Linked DNA regions of Homo sapiens. The protein of the gene in region 1 interacts with the protein of each later gene in a pairwise test. Each region holds a gene or a part of one and is shown in the gene's direction. Other genes may lie near its edges.

Region 1 (4,465 bases):
AGAGTTAGCTTTGTCTTTGAGAGAAATGGCAGCTTCTGAATTCTTTCTGTAAAATGTGATTGTTTCTCAGCTTGAAGAAGAAAAAAGGAGACAGAAGATTGAAATGTGGGACAGCATGCAAGAAGGAAAAAGTTACAAAGGAAATGCAAAGAAGCCCCAGGTGACTGGAGACCTCGGCCGGCTGGCATGCGGTAGATGAAGATTGCCAAGTAGAATGTTTTAATTGCTTCTTACACTACTGTGTGTGTTCAAACAGGAGGAAGACAGTCCTGGGCCTTCCACTTCATCTGTCCTGAAACGGAAATCGGACAGAAAGCCTTTGCGGGGAGGAGGTAAGCACCACTGATGTCAAATGTTAACAGATTTTCAACACTTACAGGATATAGTTACCTTTTAGGAACAAGATTGTTTGTTTCTTTGTCCATAAATTAAGACTAATTCCTTAGGATTGTGAAGATTCAATAAAGGAAACAGATGCAAATCACCTCCTAGGTCCTCACTAAGTACTTAGAAGGATTGTACTTATAGTATTCTAACTTGATCCTTCTGCAGCCCCGTAGAGGGAGAGCTAAGTAGGGTGAGGAATTGTCTGCCAATCTTCAGATGAGTGTCAAGGAGCTGGAACACAGTGGTTTTGGTCTTTCTGGCTGGGACCACCTTGTTTCTTGCAAATAACAAGGAGTAGCAGACAGATGCTCATCCAAAGCTGCTTCCTGTGTGCAGCACTGCCCCGGGGACTCTGGATGATGCCACAGCAGTCTGTCTTCATCCCATCCCTGAGAATTTCAAATCTGGGAAGATGGGACTCACAAACGAAAATAAGCAATCCTTGGTGATTCTGGCTAAGAGTTGCAAGTTACTGCTGAGGAAGGAAAGAACAAACACACTAGAACACTGTAGGAACCAAGGCGGAAGATTTTGTATCCTCCATAGGAGGAGAGGGGCACCGCAGAGGCCCTGATGGTGTCTTTGAGGACTGAGGAAAGACTGGGGCATGGGCTCCAAGGCAGCAGGGCCACAGACTTGGCTGACCTTAAACGCTGAGCTGTAATCCCCTTTGTGTCAGAAGACTAAACCTGGCTTGCTGTAGAGAAGGTGATGCATCTGGAAAGAAAATGCTATTTTTAAATGGTCCTGCCGGAAGCTTATTTTTAGACACATAGAGGTGATATTTAGGAGAGGAATGGAAATCGTAGAAGATGGAATGCAGGGTGTGCTTGCCTGCACGGCCTCTTTCAGCATCCCCAGCATTTCTGAGCTGGGACTTTTGACTAGCCTGGCTTTACAAATAAGGAAACTGAGGCACAGTGTTTAATTGCCCAAAGATTCCACTATAAGTAAGGAGTAAAAGTAACATTTAAGTTCTGGGTGGCCCTAGAACCTTAGCACTCAACCAGGTTACCAGTTGTGCACTGACTTTGGGAAGCTCATGAGGGAGTGGGGTGGTTGGGGGTAGGGAAGGATACAGAAGACCCCGTTCTGACTGGTAGAAGTGACAAGTTTGACTCTTGATTTTTTTTAATCTGTTTTCTGTAGCGTGAACAGCCCTTATTTGAATGTATGAGTTTTAGTAAGCACTGTGATAGGAGGATTCATATACTTAAATCAGGCCCTCTTGAGAGAGTTTTTTGGTGACCCTTTTGCATGTGTTTCGGAGGTTGGGACAAAGAAGCTGAATGACTTTTTTCCCCACCAGACAATCAGTTCAAATGGCAATCACAATATAAAGGTTTTTTTTTTTTTCACATAGCTAAAAGGTTTTTTTAAATGTCCCTTAGGATCTGTATCTTTGCAGTGCTTTGCGTGTCACTCTCATAATTTTATTGTGGATATACAATGTTCCCAGATTTTCAGATTTTTATCAATACTGTTGTGCTGCTTTTCTGTCCTCCCAGGTTATAACCCGTTGTCTGGTGAAGGAGGCGGAGCTTGCTCCTGGAGACCTGGACGCAGAGGCCCGTCATCTGGCGGATGAGGCTAAGAATCTTGTTAGTGTCACTTTTGACATTAGCAAGATGAACCCTTAACCCTCGATTCAATTGCCTTACGCACGCTTTTCACAGTGACTAGCCAAGGGGAGGTGGGGTTGATTTCTGTTCCTAACTACACCTGCATATGTCAGGGCTCCAGTCAGCAAAAGGTATAGATGTTGCCTCTAGGCATGAGGTCATTGGTCACATTCTACTTGGAGACAGTGATTGCATTCATTGATTTCATGGTTAATTGCTAGTTGGTAGGTAAAGGCCTCTAGATGATTAGCAATCTTGATAAAAGAGGCCTAGTAATGTTCTTTTGAGGTTAGAAATCCTTGCTGCTAGGACAGTCTCTGTGACAGGTTGCGTTGAATGATGTCTTCCTTATCAATGGTGAGCCCACCAGTGAGGATTACTGATGTGGACAGTTGATGGGGTTTGTTTCTGTATATTTATTTTTATGTACAGAACTTTGTAAAAACGAAACTATTTAAAAAACAAGAATAACATTTTTAGCATCTTTATTCAAGGAGATTTATGGACTTCAATTTGTCTATCAAACATTAAATAGCTTTTTATTACAACCTCTAACTATTACTTATTTCTCTATTTATTATTACTCACCCAAAATAAGTCTGGCAAGTGGCAGACAGCTGCCGTGATTTTGAAAGTTGACAGACTCCTTGGGGTTCATCCACAAAATTGGGTGCTTGGAGTCGAGTTGCCGAATTACTGGGATAAAGAAACATCGTGCCTCAAGGTTCCTCATAGGCTGACCAGGTTTCTACGTGACCTCTCAGTTATTCCCTTACGCCATGACTCATCTTTTACGCTCTTGTCCAGAGGCACTATCAGCAGTTTTGGATAAAGAGCCAAACAGTAAATATTTTAGACTTTACAGGCCACATATGATCTCTGTCACATAGTCTTAGGTTTTTATATTTTTAAAGGATTGTTTTTAAAAAAGATTCTCTGCTCATGGGCTGGATTTGGGCTGAATGCTGTAGTGTGTGGACCCCGTCTAGATCATCAGAAGGAAAAACATTAACCTTCAGAATAGGGGGTAATTCGCTGCAAAAGTACTATAGAATGGTCTCATACATAAATTAGTCAACATTTGTTATCTCCTGCAGGTAGAATATTCCGTGGTTGCTTCTTGACCAAGGGAAATACAGTCTGGCTGTGAGAGACTTAAAATCTCTTGAGGAGCGCTCTGGAGAATGGCTGAAGGAGAGGAAACAGGAGCCTTGAGCAGTGTAATTACAAACAAATAGGTTGGCATAGTCTTAAGTCTTTGAGTCTAGAGAGATTTGAGTTTTGTTTTGCCTGTGGAGGCAATTGGGGGTTTCAGGTCAAAGAGAGGGTCAGTGGAAACAAGGGTGGGCCTTGTGAGGTGTGGGGAAGCCCTGGGACCCTCACTCCCCTTCCAGTGTGTAACTGGATTGGCTCCCACCAGCCCAGAAGATTTACGACGTGGGAAATGGTATACTTGGATTAAAATATTTCATCCAGATTTGTTTACATCTAGAGAGAACCCCTTGTAGGTTATAAGGAAACTTTTTAACATTCTTCCTTGAATATATTTTCTGTAGCTGAAAATGTTTGTGAAGTGGCTGTCAACTACACATCGCATGAGTAGAGGGGCTCTGGGTCGGGGTTTCATATGCAGCAGAGCAGCTCCCTTGCTGCCGTCCATCAAGAGCCCTCAACACAAGAGTTTGTTATAAATAGAAATAAACGACAAAAAGTAGAGGGGTATGTTTAAGTACACTATTAGATGTGACTGACTACCTTGAAACCTGATTTTTTTCCATGGGGAGAAACAGTGCTTGAATTCTGCATGCCCCCCTTGCATCTAGCACCTTTTGGTAGGGGTGGAAGGAGGGTGTCAGGGAGAATGATTAGGAGATAATGGAGGGGAGGGGAAACTTGCGTTGTGTAATAGCATTTGAAGAGCACTTACCACGTGGCAGGAGTGTCCATTTCTGTTTGATCCCCCTAGAATCCTATGAAACGGGTATGTTACTAACCTTGGTTTTCAGAAACTGAAGCTTAGATGGGCTTAGTAACTGGTCCACAACGCTACTCGCTGTAGTCTACTTCATCCTTGTGTTCATATTAGCCAAAGGCCTTAAGTCATCAAGGTGTGGGAAGCTTCTTGCAGCTAATGAAACAGTTATGTGGCCAGGCACAGTGGCTCACGCCTGTAATCCCACCAGCCAAGATGGGTGGATCACCTGAGGTCAGGAGTTCGAGACCAGCCTGACTAATATGGTAAAACCCTGTCTCTACTAAAAATACAAAAAATTAGCTGGGCATGATGGCATATGCCTGTAATCCCAGCTCCTTGGGAGGCTGAGGCAGGAGAATTGCTTGAACGTGGGAGGTGGAGGTGGAGGTTGTGATGAGCCAAGATCGTGCCATTGCACTCCACCCTGGGCAACAAGAGCAAAACTCCATCTCCAAAAAAAAAAAAAAAAAAAAAGTTATGT
Region 2 (7,404 bases), on another chromosome or scaffold:
TTCCAGTGGCTGGATGTGGACATGGTGGTAAGCTATCTTAGATCATGTGGACAAGGGAAACACATAGGGATATTAGAACCTCCAGACAGAAGGAACTTAGGACCCTGGACAGCTTTGTGGAGCAGTGCTCCCATACCAGCGTGAAGTTTTGTATGGGAGAAAACATACATTTCCAGCTTTTGTAAGCCACTGTTATTTTGGGTCTCTCTCAGAGCAGCCAAATATATAATTTAACTAATATATTTTCTTTCTGTGATTCTTCTTTATTTTGATTATACTTCTACTTCTCTGCCCCTCTTTTAGGTGGGAGGTGCTGCTCCAAGCACTAACTCAGAATATAGACCCTCTCCCTCTTGTAATAGTGCCAGCTTGGAGTTCTTTGCTTCCACTGTAGGGGAAGGAAGGAAAAAATATGGAGAACTCACATCCACTCTTCATTGTCCTCAAACAGAAGTAACCCATTTTGTTCTGCTCACAGCCCATTGGCCAGAACTAACTGTATGGCCCCAATCTAATTGCAAAGGAGTCTGGGAAGTACAGCACAGCACATGGATCTTTGGAAAGCGTTAATTTTCTCTGCCAAAGGCTTCTTTTGTTGTTGTTGTTGTTTGAAATGGAGTCCCGCTCCGTCACCCGGGCTGGAGTGCAGTGGCCCTATCTCAGCTCACTGCAACCTCCACCTCCCAGGTTCAAGCACTCCTCCAGCCTTGGCCTCCCAAGTAGCTAGGATTACAGGCGTGTGCCATCATACCTGGCTATTTTTTTTGTATTTTTAGTAGAGACAGGGTTTTACCGTGTTGGCCAGGCTGGTCTCAAACTCTTGGCTTCAAGTGATCCGCCTGCTTCGGTCTCCCAAAGTGTTGGGATTACAGGCGTGAGCCACTGTACCCGGCCAATACTGGTGTTTTCTGACCTCAGCGTTTTTCTTTTCTCCTGCCATGTACTCTCCCTAGAGATTTCATCTACTCCCAAGTCTTCCACTGCTCCTATCTGCTGATGACTCCCAAAACTCAGTCTCCAGCCGAGACTTCTCTCCTGGGCTTGAGACATATGTATCCAACTGCCAGAACATCTCCAGTGGACAGCCTTTGGGCACAAGGCCACACTAGCTTGTGGGTACAAGTAATCACCCAAAGTCAATTTCAGTGGCTCTCCACTCCCACATTTTTTCAACCCCTGGAAATGTTCCCTTCCCAAATACTCTGAGTCTCTCTTCTCTTTTCATGACTGTGGTTTTGTGACTGGATGGTAGCTCCTGTTGCTTTTTTTCCTTTCAAATGAATTTTCTCTTAGGAGGCTTCTTAGCCATTAAGCAAATAGACCTCAACTGGGCTTGCCCTATGCCTATCTGAAACCCAGCTTAGGTTCGAGTTAGGACTCCTGTTAATCTGAGCTCTCACTTCCTGTCCCAACCTGCTTATTTTTTTTGGTGAAAGAAAATATCATCCCCCTAGTTGCTCAGAAACCTGGGAATCATTGGGATTTTTTCCTCTCCTTCACCTTCCTCATCCAATCAGTCACCAAGTGCTATCAACTCTGCTGCCTTAGTAGCCCTCAATATATACTTACCTATCAACCATCACTGCTATGCCATACTTCAGGCCTTCATTTCTCACTTGGATTATTAAAATATCCCTAAATAGTTCCTCTGCCTTCTCTCTGGCCACCCTCCTGAGTGATCTCTCCATCATGTACCTTTCAGTGACTGCTTGCACAAGCCCCTTTGTGACTTGGTCATAGTCTGCTCTCTTGAACCACCAGAGCCAAGCACCTGGGTTCTGATTCTGGTTGCAACTCTTACTGCGTGATGATGGACAGGCCACTTGATCTCCTCAAACCTCAGTTCCTAAATCAAATGAATGATTGAATTCAGTCACTTAACTTTGTATGTAGTAGGTAGGCACTGTGCAAAACATACTAGTGGATATAGAGATGAATAAGAAAAAGCCCCTGCACTCAAAGAGCTCTCGGATTCATCAACAAATTATTGTGCAGTTAGATAGTAAGTGCTATAATCCAGGAATATACAGTGTTGTGTGAATAATGTGGAATCAGTTTATCTCCAGAGCAGAAAAAGGTGAAGGCCGAAGAAGGCATTCAGAGTGATACTGGAGCTGTGTAGCAGGGGCTACTACTGTTCCCTCAAATCCTTTCTTCTCTTCTTCCTGAGTAATAGAGTCCTTTTTCAGCTAGGCATACAGCCATCCAAAATAAAAACTATATTTCCCAGCCTCCTTTTCAGCTAAGTGTAGCCATGTGACTAAGTTGTGGCCAATGGGATGTCAGTACAAGTGGTAATGGCAATATCTGGGATGTGTCTTTAAAAGGAAGGAACATGTCCTTCTCCTTTTCCTCCTTCCTGTTCCCTGGGAGGTGAACTTGGTAGCTGGAGGTGAAGCAGCTGGAACTTGGATATGAGCGTCTTGTTGATGATAATAGTGCAACAAGATAAAAGCAGCCCGAGCTGGCCTACATTTACATGAGAAGGAAATAAGACTCCATTTTGTTTAAGCTATTCTCTTGCATATATATATACACATATATATCAGCTAAGTGTAGCCATGTGACTAACTTGTGGCCAATGGGATGTCAGTATGAGTGGTAAGAGCAGTATCTTGTATATATATATGTGTATATATACACACACACATATATATACATATATGTATGCAAGAATATAAAATATACATGTGTGTGTGTATATATATACACACATATATATGTCCCTTGCAGCCAAGTCTAATTCTAACTAATACAAACTAACTCTAAAAAATGAATATATATTCACCAGGGGATAGGCTATTTCAAGCAGAGGGAAGCCTGTATAAAGGCTCAGGGAATGCCGTGGTTTTATGTGGCAGCAGATGAGACTGGAAATGAGTCAGGATGAGCCACAGTGGAGGATGAATTAAATGGGCAGGAGTGTGGTAGAAAGACCTGTTGGAGGCTATGAATGCAATCAAGGTGACAGACAACTGGTGCAATGATGGTAGTGGAAATGGAGGAGAGGGGATTGATTCAAGATGCATTTAGGACCAAGAATCGGGAGCTTGTGAACGTGTGTATGAGTACTGTAGACGGAGTGGGTGTGTCATCAGAGAAGATCTGAGCATTTGGGCTTGCTCTCCTCAGAGGCCCTGCGAGTGGAGTTCAGCTTTTCCTCATGGGGCAAATCTCACTTTCGCTCCAGTTCCTGGGGCTCAGAGTCCCTGGCCCAGATGCCTCTTGCCATCTCATCTTCACCCTGCCTGGCTTCCCTTGCTTGTTCCAGGATTGTTTCATAAAGAGGGATGTGGTTGGTCTTTAACCCTATGAATGCTGGCTGAGGATGCCTGCGGAACCTGTAGTGAAGCTTTCAGGGGCTGCTCGGGTTCTGGCTGGTAGGTGAACACTGTCCATCTTGCCGGCTGGGACACAGTGACTCTGGGTAGTTGTGTAAGAGAGGGGCCCTTGGCAGACAAACAGGTTCTTCTCTGTTGGTGGGCCAGCCAGCAGGTCAGTGGGAAGGTTAAAGGTCATGGGGTTTGGGAGAAACTGGGTGAGGAGTTCAGCCCCATCCCCCGTAAAGCTCCTGGGAAGCACTTCTCTACTGGGGCAGCCCCTGATACCAGGGCACTCATTAACCCTCTGGGTGCCAGGGAAAGGGCAGGAGGTGAGTGCTGGGAGGCAGCTGAGGTCAACTTCTTTTGAACTTCCACGTGGTATTTACTCAGAGCAATTGGTGCCAGAGGCTCAGGGCCCTGGAGTATAAAGCAGAATGTCTGCTCTCTGTGCCCAGACGTGAGCAGGTGAGCAGCTGGGGCAGAGGGATGGGGGTCACAGTCCTAAGGGAGGGCATTGCAGGTGGCCTCAGGGGAGAGCCTGGGGTGGCCCCTAAGACGTCCTCTTGGAACATTTTGGCAGAGTTGCCTCTTCGCCCTCATTATGGCTCAGTTTTTCCACCATGAAATGGGAGGGAGGGAGACAGGTGGGCAGGGGAGAGGTGGTAGAAGTGGCCTAGAGAACTGTTCCTGGGGTCTGGGACCTTTGCGAAGGGGTTAGAGCACCACGCTCCCTGCTATGTGACTGAGGTAGCAAGAGCACGCCCTCTTCCCATGTCTGAGGAAGACACCCTAGCCTCCTTGACTCACCTAGGTCAGTCCTCTTGAGCCCCAACAGCTCTGTGCTCCCCAGCCCAAGGAAGGGGTAACAGGATTTCGGGCAGTTGCCCCTGCAGAGGCCCCCTGGGCAAGTCCCCTGCGCCATGTCCCTTCGTCTCCTTCTTCCCCTAACCAGGCCTCCCTCCACCTGTCTTCTCAGAGCAGGTAATGGCAAGCATGGCTGCCGTGCTCACCTGGGCTCTGGCTCTTCTTTCAGGTGGGTCTCCGACCCTGACTTCAACGTGGGGGTGTGGGTGGAGGCTGGCCAGAGGGCCCTGTCCACCCTGGGGGAGGAGAGCCCAGGCCCTGATTACCTAGTCCCTCTCCACAGCGTTTTCGGCCACCCAGGCACGGAAAGGCTTCTGGGACTACTTCAGCCAGACCAGCGGGGACAAAGGCAGGGTGGAGCAGATCCATCAGCAGAAGATGGCTCGCGAGCCCGCGTGAGTGCCCAGGGGAAGGGGTGTAGGCGAAGGGAGGAGACAGCTGGGCCATGCCATGATGACCTGCCTCTGCTGCCTCAACCTCTGTGGCCGCTGCTGGGACAGAGGAAAGGAGCGGTGCTAGCTCTGTCTGCAGATCCCGGCCATCCTGGGCTCTTTAGCGCCCTCTGCCTGCAGCCCCCGCCTTGACAACTCCGTAGCTGTTGCCCCCTTGCTCACTGAGGCGCGGGACCTGGGATCAATCGGGAGGACGCCCGCTGCAGTCCCCAGAATCAAAGGATGATGTGGCGCATCTATGTTTCTTTGGAGAGTGTTGTAGGTCTGGATTTGTATGGGCAATGTGTTTGTGCTTCGTGCGTGAGTTGTTACTGGCCAGGGCTAGGACAAGAGCCCTCGACCCTGGGGCCAACGCCCTGCGTCCTTGGTTCCCCCAGAGGATCAGTGCGCGATGACTTGGGGACAAAGGAGATGATGGAGGCTAGCAGTCTGACGGCCTGGATATCTGTCCCCTTCTCCAGGACCCTGAAAGACAGCCTTGAGCAAGACCTCAACAATATGAACAAGTTCCTGGAAAAGCTGAGGCCTCTGAGTGGGAGCGAGGCTCCTCGGCTCCCACAGGACCCGGTGGGCATGCGGCGGCAGCTGCAGGAGGAGTTGGAGGAGGTGAAGGCTCGCCTCCAGCCCTACATGGCAGAGGCGCACGAGCTGGTGGGCTGGAATTTGGAGGGCTTGCGGCAGCAACTGAAGCCCTACACGATGGATCTGATGGAGCAGGTGGCCCTGCGCGTGCAGGAGCTGCAGGAGCAGTTGCGCGTGGTGGGGGAAGACACCAAGGCCCAGTTGCTGGGGGGCGTGGACGAGGCTTGGGCTTTGCTGCAGGGACTGCAGAGCCGCGTGGTGCACCACACCGGCCGCTTCAAAGAGCTCTTCCACCCATACGCCGAGAGCCTGGTGAGCGGCATCGGGCGCCACGTGCAGGAGCTGCACCGCAGTGTGGCTCCGCACGCCCCCGCCAGCCCCGCGCGCCTCAGTCGCTGCGTGCAGGTGCTCTCCCGGAAGCTCACGCTCAAGGCCAAGGCCCTGCACGCACGCATCCAGCAGAACCTGGACCAGCTGCGCGAAGAGCTCAGCAGAGCCTTTGCAGGCACTGGGACTGAGGAAGGGGCCGGCCCGGACCCCCAGATGCTCTCCGAGGAGGTGCGCCAGCGACTTCAGGCTTTCCGCCAGGACACCTACCTGCAGATAGCTGCCTTCACTCGCGCCATCGACCAGGAGACTGAGGAGGTCCAGCAGCAGCTGGCGCCACCTCCACCAGGCCACAGTGCCTTCGCCCCAGAGTTTCAACAAACAGACAGTGGCAAGGTTCTGAGCAAGCTGCAGGCCCGTCTGGATGACCTGTGGGAAGACATCACTCACAGCCTTCATGACCAGGGCCACAGCCATCTGGGGGACCCCTGAGGATCTACCTGCCCAGGCCCATTCCCAGCTCCTTGTCTGGGGAGCCTTGGCTCTGAGCCTCTAGCATGGTTCAGTCCTTGAAAGTGGCCTGTTGGGTGGAGGGTGGAAGGTCCTGTGCAGGACAGGGAGGCCACCAAAGGGGCTGCTGTCTCCTGCACATCCAGCCTCCTGCGACTCCCCAATCTGGATGCATTACATTCACCAGGCTTTGCAAACCCAGCCTCCCAGTGCTCATTTGGGAATGCTCATGAGTTACTCCATTCAAGGGTGAGGGAGTAGGGAGGGAGAGGCACCATGCATGTGGGTGATTATCTGCAAGCCTGTTTGCCGTGATGCTGGAAGCCTGTGCCACTACATCCTGGAGTTTGGCTCTAGTCACTTCTGGCTGCCTGGTGGCCACTGCTACAGCTGGTCCACAGAGAGGAGCACTTGTCTCCCCAGGGCTGCCATGGCAGCTATCAGGGGAATAGAAGGGAGAAAGAGAATATCATGGGGAGAACATGTGATGGTGTGTGAATATCCCTGCTGGCTCTGATGCTGGTGGGTACGAAAGGTGTGGGCTGTGATAGGAGAGGGCAGAGCCCATGTTTCCTGACATAGCTCTACACCTAAATAAGGGACTGAACCCTCCCAACTGTGGGAGCTCCTTAAACCCTCTGGGGAGCATACTGTGTGCTCTCCCCATCTCCAGCCCCTCCCTCTGGGTTCCCAAGTTGAAGCCTAGACTTCTGGCTCAAATGAAATAGATGTTTATGATAGAAGTTTGCCTGGCGTGACTCTCATTTGGACCATGTCTGAAAGCAGTGGCCTCACCACTATCCCCAAAGCACACCCATCACCCACTCCATTCCCTTGCTGCTCTTTCTCATCCACCCACTCCCAGTCCAGGTCTGTCAAAGGGGGTCTGGCTGGGCTCTGCTTCAGGGATCCTGGCTAGACAACGGCTGTCTGTCACACCTGGCAGGAGGGCCTGGGTTACGGGCCCTTCCTCTGCACCTGCACTGTTCACTAGCCTGCTCCCCCACAGGACACTGTGCATGGAATGCAGGCTGTGTCTGGAAGAGCTGTGGCCCTGGTGGACCTAAGATTCCTGAGGTGGGCTGCCTCCTTTGTTCCTGCTGTTCTAGAGTTTGAATGGCCTCTTTTTATGCCGGACTCTCTTCTGGGGACTCCCCTCACTCAGGGGCACCAATGCTCCCTATAGATCCCCTGGGAACTGAAACTGGGGTGTGGTGGAGGACGTGGAAAGGGTAAACACAGCTCCTTGTCTTTGGACTTCCCTGTCCGGCCCCCTTTCCTCCCAGCTCAGCCTACTGTCCCCGGGTTCTCAGCACCTGCCTGCTCCCCAACCCCATAGCACAGAC

The links.
Region 2: the proteins of SELENOS (region 1) and APOA5 interact in binary tests that used the Homo sapiens proteins (3 or more experiments, as listed by UniProt).

The regions. Positions count from the first base shown.
Region 1 is NC_000015.10:101,270,287-101,274,751, reverse strand, and holds the end of SELENOS (selenoprotein S), read left to right. Parts: intron 1-70; coding exon 71-160; intron 161-256; coding exon 257-332; intron 333-1,895; coding exon 1,896-1,975; coding exon of another isoform or gene 1,976-1,981; 3' UTR 1,982-1,988; exon of another isoform or gene 1,989-2,561; intron 2,562-3,106; 3' UTR 3,107-3,943; downstream 3,944-4,465. UniProt on the Homo sapiens protein: Involved in the degradation process of misfolded endoplasmic reticulum (ER) luminal proteins. Participates in the transfer of misfolded proteins from the ER to the cytosol, where they are destroyed by the proteasome in a ubiquitin-dependent manner.
Region 2 is NC_000011.10:116,788,764-116,796,167, reverse strand, and holds APOA5 (apolipoprotein A-V precursor), read left to right. Parts: upstream 1-4,288; 5' UTR 4,289-4,307; coding exon 4,308-4,356; intron 4,357-4,470; coding exon 4,471-4,582; intron 4,583-5,100; coding exon 5,101-6,040; 3' UTR 6,041-6,801; downstream 6,802-7,404. UniProt on the Homo sapiens protein: Minor apolipoprotein mainly associated with HDL and to a lesser extent with VLDL. May also be associated with chylomicrons.